Linked DNA regions of Homo sapiens. The protein of the gene in region 2 interacts with the protein of the main gene of each other region in a pairwise test. Each region holds a gene or a part of one and is shown on either strand. Other genes may lie near its edges. The genes, in order: PEX3 and CRAT.

The links.
Region 1: the proteins of CRAT (region 2) and PEX3 come close enough for resonance energy transfer, tested with the Homo sapiens proteins (one large-scale study listed by BioGRID).

The regions. Positions count from the first base shown.
Region 1 is NC_000006.12:143,485,305-143,489,127, reverse strand, and holds part of PEX3 (peroxisomal biogenesis factor 3), read right to left. Parts: intron 1-3,823. UniProt on the Homo sapiens protein: Involved in peroxisome biosynthesis and integrity. Assembles membrane vesicles before the matrix proteins are translocated. As a docking factor for PEX19, is necessary for the import of peroxisomal membrane proteins in the peroxisomes.
Region 2 is NC_000009.12:129,103,971-129,107,793, forward strand, and holds part of CRAT (carnitine O-acetyltransferase), read right to left. Parts: intron 337-3,823; coding exon 218-336; intron 1-217. UniProt on the Homo sapiens protein: Catalyzes the reversible transfer of acyl groups from carnitine to coenzyme A (CoA) and regulates the acyl-CoA/CoA ratio. Also plays a crucial role in the transport of fatty acids for beta-oxidation.

The DNA.
Region 1 (3,823 bases), on a different chromosome or scaffold from region 2:
ATATAACATTATAGTTTGCAAAACATATAGCTAATTTGAATTAATTTCTGCAATCAAGCGATGAATTCAGCTCTAAGTTTTGTGGTAAAGGCCAAGAGGCAAACCATTTAAGAAAATGAGTAGTTTTTCTTGTAATAAATTCTAGGAGATAGTTATTATTTAGGTTCTTATATGAGGGATGATGGTATCATAAGCGTTCAAGTGTGACTTTGAGGGACAAAAACCCCAAATAGTCTTCAAATGAATTTTGGTGTATGTCAAGTGCTAGATAGGTATCTGTTGAATAAATAATTGTAGGAGTAAAGGTACTTTTGCTGGAAGCTGACATAACACGGTTAAGGGTGTATTACTTTCTAGAAGATCTAACATACGGTATGAATATGTGTAGTAAGTGCATATTTTACATATACACACATACATGAACCACACATATACACTATAGTGTAAGGGTTATTAACACCCCAAGGGATTTGCGAATGTGAAGATAAGAAAAAAATTACACCTTCATTTTCTTTAACTTCTAACCAAAATCTGGTATCTCTTTCAATTATGAATGTAGGCAACAAACTGTGATAATATTAGCAGGTTGTATGACTTTGTCTTCAATAGAAATCATAGGCATTTTCATGTCATATGACAGTTGTGGAAGTTATCAGAACTCTCATTATATCTTGGTATTTAATGCATGAATAAAGAAGCAATACCGCTATATCATACACTTAATTTTAAAAGAAATTTTGAAAACTATATATGATTGGTTTCCTTTATAATATTATGTATTTTATTGTATGCACTTATAAATATTGTTCTGAGAAGGGGTCCATAGGCTTCACCAGTCTGTGAAAGGGTCCATGATAGAAAAGGTTGACAGCCTCTGAGAGTGTCAAAGAAATGGGAAGTAAACCTGTCCCTAGTGATCTCTGTTTCTTAAGTATCGGAAAATCCAAGTGAGGTTTAGACATGTCCTAATCTCAATCAATTCATGGTTAAATTATCTCATCAGAGAATTTGATGTTATTTAGTTTCAAGTATTCAGTCTAGGTGTTCAATGAAACATAGGTTTAGATCAATGTTTCTCAAACCAGAATTTACAGACATACTTTCAGGGGCCCAAGAATTTGAGGGGAAATTTTGTGTTTTGATTTCTATGAAAATGTAAAGAAAACTCAAACACGCTCTTGATTATTGAGAAGATAAAATATATAACCTACTATTGTTCCTGATTTTAGGGCATTTGTTTATATTTATGTTCTTATTGGCTTTAAGTAACATTACTTTAACTGTCTTGTGCTAATGAGAGAAGAACAGAGGCAGAAAATCTTTCAAATGAAGACCAAATCATGTAAAACACATGATACAAATGAAGCTTTCAGAATAGTTACAGTAGATAAAAAAAAAAATACTAGCAAGTCAGCTTCAGAAAATGCAGGCTGAATGCTCAACAGCATGAACAGTAGCAGACAGGTCCACATTCACTTTGGCACAACAAATTATTAATAGTAGACGTCAGCCATATTATAGAACAATCTTTTTTTGTAATTTAGATTCTACTTGACAATAAAAGTGCTTTGGTTTTGAGTTACGAAAAAGCTCTAATCTTAAGGATCTTATTGAGTTTTTAATTTATACACTAAAAATGATTTAAACACTGGAGGACTGTGGTATATGTGTGTACATATGTATGTGAGGTGTATGGACAAATCTGAGAAATACTACCATTGTAGTGCAAAAGCAGCCATAAACAACACATAAACCAATGGGCATGCTGTCACCCAATAAAACTTACAAAAGCTGGTGCTTGGCTGGATTTGGCTCATAGGTCATAGCTAACTTATATCAGCTTTATAATAAAGACTTTAATCTGTTCAAATACTGTATCCTGATGCAGCTTCTAGGATGTTTCAGTAGTCTGAGATAAAAATTATGTATCATAGGGTTGGTTCACACTATAAAAGCTCTTTCCTTATGTTATCTGAAAGCAATCTGAAATAATTTATCTCCTGCTTATGTTATTTGAAAGCTATTTGAAAATAATTTGAAAAACCACCTTTCTCGATTGTTTTCTGATTCTCCCATTTCCTACCTTTACCAACTACCATCCTAATATCTTCTACCAAAGGGGTCAGCAAAGTATGGCCTGCAGGCCAAATCCACTGCCGCCTGTTTTTGTATATAAAGTTTTGTTGAAACAGCCATACTCTTTTGTTCATGTACGTTTCTGACTGCTTTCACACTGCCAGAGCAGAGTTGAATAGTTTCTGTAGAGAATGTATGTTGCATTAAGCCTAAAGTATGTACTATCTGGCCCTGTACAGTTTGCCAAACCCCTGTTCTACAGCATTCCCACCATAGGCTCTCCTACACACCATTGTAGTTGAAGTAGTAGCAGTAATTCGAAAGGACTAATTTTATGTAAATTAGCATTCTAATCAAGGCAAAGGCTTTATAAAAAGATAAGTGGAAATAGTAAAGCATATGACAATTTATTAAGAAGACCACTTGGTATTTTAACTCATAGAAATTATAGTTTAAAAAATTAAACTATAATTGTAATAGCCTTGTCAATCAATGGTCTAGTATATACATTTAATATACATCCAGTTACAGTAAAAAACTTTACTAAACATTAGTATCAATGGCGTTTTTACCATATTGAAACATTTGTTTTTATTATCAATTATATCGATTTTAATTAAAGTGTAGTGCATAAAATTATTTAAGCATTAAGGCTGATGATGCTTTATGCTTGGTTGTAATTTCCACTCATCTGTCAAAATGAACAGCCTACTGGCCAAGCCAGGGACTTCTACAGAAGAGGACAAAGGTAAAGGTAAGGTTTAAATGCCCCAAGTTATGACCTTTTTCTCACATTGATATAGATGTGAAGCTTAACATTCAGTAAAATGAGATCAGTCTTATTCACTATTTCTTCTGCAATATGAGTGCCAAGCTCTTAGGGGTGAGAAAGAGGACAGAAGACTGAAGAGTCCAGTGTGGGAAAATGTGCATGTGAAGGACAGGCTGATGACACCACAGTGAAAGGAGGAAACGAACTCTTAGTCTCAGTGCTCTCCACGTTCCCAAGAGTAAAAAGTCTACAGAGAGGATACACTAAATTGTCTGAGACAAGTTACACTAAGAAGATGTCAGCTTTATGCTTAGGCCATAGGGTCTCTTCTCATTGTACATTATTGAAGCAGTTTGCAACTGGCATTGCAAACAATTTTTTAACTTATAACACAGTTTCCAAGTTTGCACATGACTCAGAAATTCAAAGTTATTTTGTTTATAATATTTGTCTTACTCAATGAATTACTGAATTACTCAATGAATTACTGAATTACTCCATGCATTCCAAATGGAAATGAAGAAATAAGATGGAGTTATAGGTAGTCTGATAAAACATTTAAATGACCCACTGTTTATGTGGCTTTTAGTGAGCATATTATTGATGCACTATTAACTGTTACATTTTATTAATCACTAAAATGCTTTACTTCTCCACAAATTTTTTTAGTTTTCCTCAAAATGTGTAGAACAGGATCCTTGATCTGCCCCAAGGATCAATCTTCTTACTAGCACAGCTTAATGCAAACATTCATGCTATATAAATTCAACTGACCACTATAATACACCTGGACTAAAATGTAGTCCCACAGTGTTGGACTACAACACGGAGAAAGGTACTCCAAACTTACACATTTGCTATGGTCCGTTATTACTCTCATGGGACACTCTACCATACTCTACATGTAGTTCCAAGTTCTGTGATTTTTTGAAAAAACCTCTCAGCAGAGAATGTAACTTTATGTTAGACAAACAT
Region 2 (3,823 bases):
CTGGAGAGACCCTGCTTCCTGAATGGGGTCTTGGGCAGCTCCCTTCCCTGCTCCGAGCCTCAATTTCCCCATTTGTAAAATAGGGAGGATGCTCCCTACTTCATAAGGCTGCTTGTGGGGCAGAAAGATAAACAGGGTCGGGGCCCCTCCAAGCGGCTGGGCGAAGTGAACTCGAGGGGCCCGGCTGCCTCCTGGCCCCCAAACCCCAGCCACTCACCGGAGCTGACCCTGCAGGTCCACGAAGTCCTGCTTGGGTAGCATCACGCCTGGGCTCGAGTAGATGACCACAGGCTGGCGGTACTGGAGGTAGGCGGTCTTGAGCCACCACTCAGACAGCTGGGAAAAGTGCCAGAGCCTGTCAGGAGGGGTGCATGGGCCCTGGTGCCCCCTGTTCCCCAGGGCTAGGGGACCTGGCTGGCCCCCATGCCCTCTACCTGGCTATGGAGATTCTCAAAGTAAATGCCTAGATCCAGAACCCACCCTCCCTGCCCCACAACTTAAACCCACCAGCCTCTTCCCTTTAGCCCGAGTGATCAGTATTAGCCAGATCAATCCGATGCTGCTGCTAAGAAAGGATGTGAAAGAAAGATCAGGAGGAAACCCGGGGTGTGGGGAGGGGCAGCAAGGTGAACGAATTCTTTTTTTTTTTTTTGAGACAGGGTCTCGCTGTGTCATGCAGGCTGGAGTGCAGTGGCGCAATCTCGGCTCACTGCAAGCTCCGCCTCCTGGGTTCACGCCATTCTCCTGCCTCAGCCTCCTGAGTAAGTGGGACTACAGGCGCCAGCCACCACACCTGGCTATTTTTTTGTATTTTTAGTAGAGACGGGGTTTCACCGTGTTAGCCAGGATGGTCTCGATTTCCTGACCTCATGATCCGCCCGCCTTGGCCTCCCAAAGTGCTGGGATTACAGGCATGAGCCACTGTGCCCGGTCTTTTTTTTTTTTTTTGAGACGGAGTCTCGCTCTGTCCCCCACGCTGGAGTGCAGTGGCATGATCTCGGCTCACTGCAAGCTCCACCTCCTGGGTTCACGCCATTCTCCTGCCTCAGCCTCCTGAGTAGCTGGGACTACAGGCGCCCGCCACTGTGCCCGGCTAATTTTTTTTTTTGTAGTTTTAGTAGAGACGGGGTTTCACCGTGTTAGCCAGGATGGTCTCGATCTCCTGACCTCGTGATCCTCCCGCCTCGGCCTCCCAAAGTGCTGGGATTACAGGCGTGAGCCACCGCGCCCGGCAAGGTGAACAAATTCTCATCTTACACATTCTCTGTCAATGACTGTCATATGTTAAATTAAAATGTATGCCTGAATAGATAGAAAGGAAAAAAGGGAAGGGTCTACAAAAACAAAGTCCAATGAGTGACTTTTTTTTTGAGACAGGGTCTCACTGTCACCCAGGCTAAAGTGCCACGGTGCTATCTCAGCTCACTGCAACCTCCACCTCCTGCATTCAAGCGATTCTCTTGCCTCAGCCTCTTGAGTAGCTGGGACTATAGGTGCGCACCACCATGCCTGGCTCATTTTTGTATTTTTTGCTGCAGACAGGTTTTCACCATGTTGGCCAGGCTGGTCTTGAACTCCTGACCTCAAATGATCCACCTGCCTCAGCTTCCCAAAGTGCTGGGATTCCAGGCGTGAGCCACCGCGTCTGGCCCAATAAGTGAGTTTTTGACCATCCCCAGCAGAGAACTGTCCAAGGAGGCAGGAGACTGGGGTATCAGAGCAGCCTGAGGAACCTGTGGCCTCGGGGAGTAGATACCCACTTTGATCTCAAGGTCAGGGCAATCTTGAGGGGATGCTCCCTGCAAGGATGAATCCTTATGCTAGTGACAAGATGTGGGTGACACATCCTTACTCTCTGCCCTGACGGTCTGTCCTCTCTCTGGGGGGTGGGGGGTCTCTGGGCACCAGCCAGGGATGTGGTATTAAAGGCTCCATGTCTGGCGCTGCGCACACTCCCAGGTGACTGTCACCCTGTGTCCTCTATGCTGACTGCAACACCCACCCTTCCTGCACACAGCCAGTACAGCTTTCTCTGGCCTTCCACCCCCAGAGACCTGGGCCCACCTGCGCCCCCTCAACCCGTGGTGAACAGCAGCAGGATGCGCCTCTTCATCACACGCACTCCCCTGCAGCACTGGGCCACTAGCCTTTGGCAAGGGGTGAGGGGGAGGCAACTTGGCAAGGGGTGAGGGGGAGGCAACTTGTCCCCAAGTTGTACAACAGGTGACTGGTAGCCCCTAAGAACTGGGTCCCTGAGTCAGTCAGACCTTCCTGTGTGGCCGAGGGCTTCCTTGAGAGCTGCTGTGTGGCTCTGGGCTTTTGGGCCACCTCTCTGGGCCTTAGTTTTCCTCATCTGTAGATCAGTGAAGGGCAGACAGGAGCTTCCTTCCCTTGGGGAAACAGCCAGGGGCCTGTACTCCACTAGGGATCCCAGAGCCTCTGGCCAAAGCTTGGGAGACCAGAGGAGACCCCGCAGGTATGGGTACTCCCCCAGCGAGAATCTGCCAGGTGGTGGCGGAGACCCTTCGGTGGCCCCGTGAGTGGAAGGAGGGGTGCCCCCACCCCTTTAACCAGGAGCTTCTGTTTGAAGGAGTCCCAGGCTAAATGAAGTCGGAAAACCACCAGCCCCCAGACGCTCTAAGGACCTTTCGGGGGAAGCATCTTGGTTCTGGAGTCCAAAGTCCTGACCTGACGCGTCTCAGCAAATGTTGACAACTCCCACCTCCTGTGTGCAGCCCCACAGCCTCCGCCAAGCCCCAGGGCTAGAGCTCTACCTCCCCTCCCCATGGCACCCCCTATAACACAGCATTTCCCAGGGCCGGACCCGCTCTGGCTCTCCCACAGGTAGCTTCTCTCTCAGGCAACCCCGACTTGGCAAATTCCACCCGTGCCCCCACCTCATTGGCAAGTGACACTGGCACTGCCTCCAAAACAGTCCTGGACCTAACGACTCTCCCTCTCTCCCATCCGGTGTCAGACCCAGGCTGCCACAGCTCCTTGGGGGTGATGTCACCCCTCCCCCTCGCCTCTGGCTTCCACTCTGCCTCCCTCCCAGCAGCTGGGTCACCTTTTTTTTTTCCCAAGACAGAGTCTTGCTCTGTCGCCCAGGCTGGAGTGCAGTGGCACAATCTTGGCTCACTGCAACCTCCACCTGCCAGGTTCAAGCAATTCTCCTGCCTCAGCCTCCCCAGTATCTGGGATTACAGGTGCGTGCCACTACGCCTGGCTAATTTTTGTATTTTTAGTAGAGACAGGGTTTCATCATGTTGGCCAGGCTGGTCCCGAACTCCTGACCTTGTGATCTGCCCGCCTTGGACTCCCAAAGTGCTGGGATTATAGGTGTGAGTCACTGCATCCAGCTGCCACTTTTTAAATCTGTGTATTGAAGTATGAGATGCAAATAGAAAAGCACACCAAACATTGGTGTAGACATATTTGCCAAACTGGGTACACCTGTGTCATAGATCAGATACAGAACCTGGGCGATCGGTCACTGAGTGACACATATCCCCTGCCTGAGGCTGTCCCACCAAGCACAAGGGCATCTTCTATCTGGTTGTACCTGCCGTGCACCCCACTCCTGCCTCTGTCCTGGAACATGAAACCTTGTCCACAACCTGTATCCTGTTCATTACCTTTCTCTCCTCCCTACTTGAATGTTAGCTCCAAGGAGCTGGTGACTGTGTCCTTCTTGATCACCCAGCACCCTGCCAAGTGCCAGACACAGAGTATGTGCTCACGAAACTCTGGGCAGCAAACGAACGGCCGTGCCAGAGCAGTGGGCACTGGAGAACTGTGCATGTGCAGCCAGCAGCAGGTCACA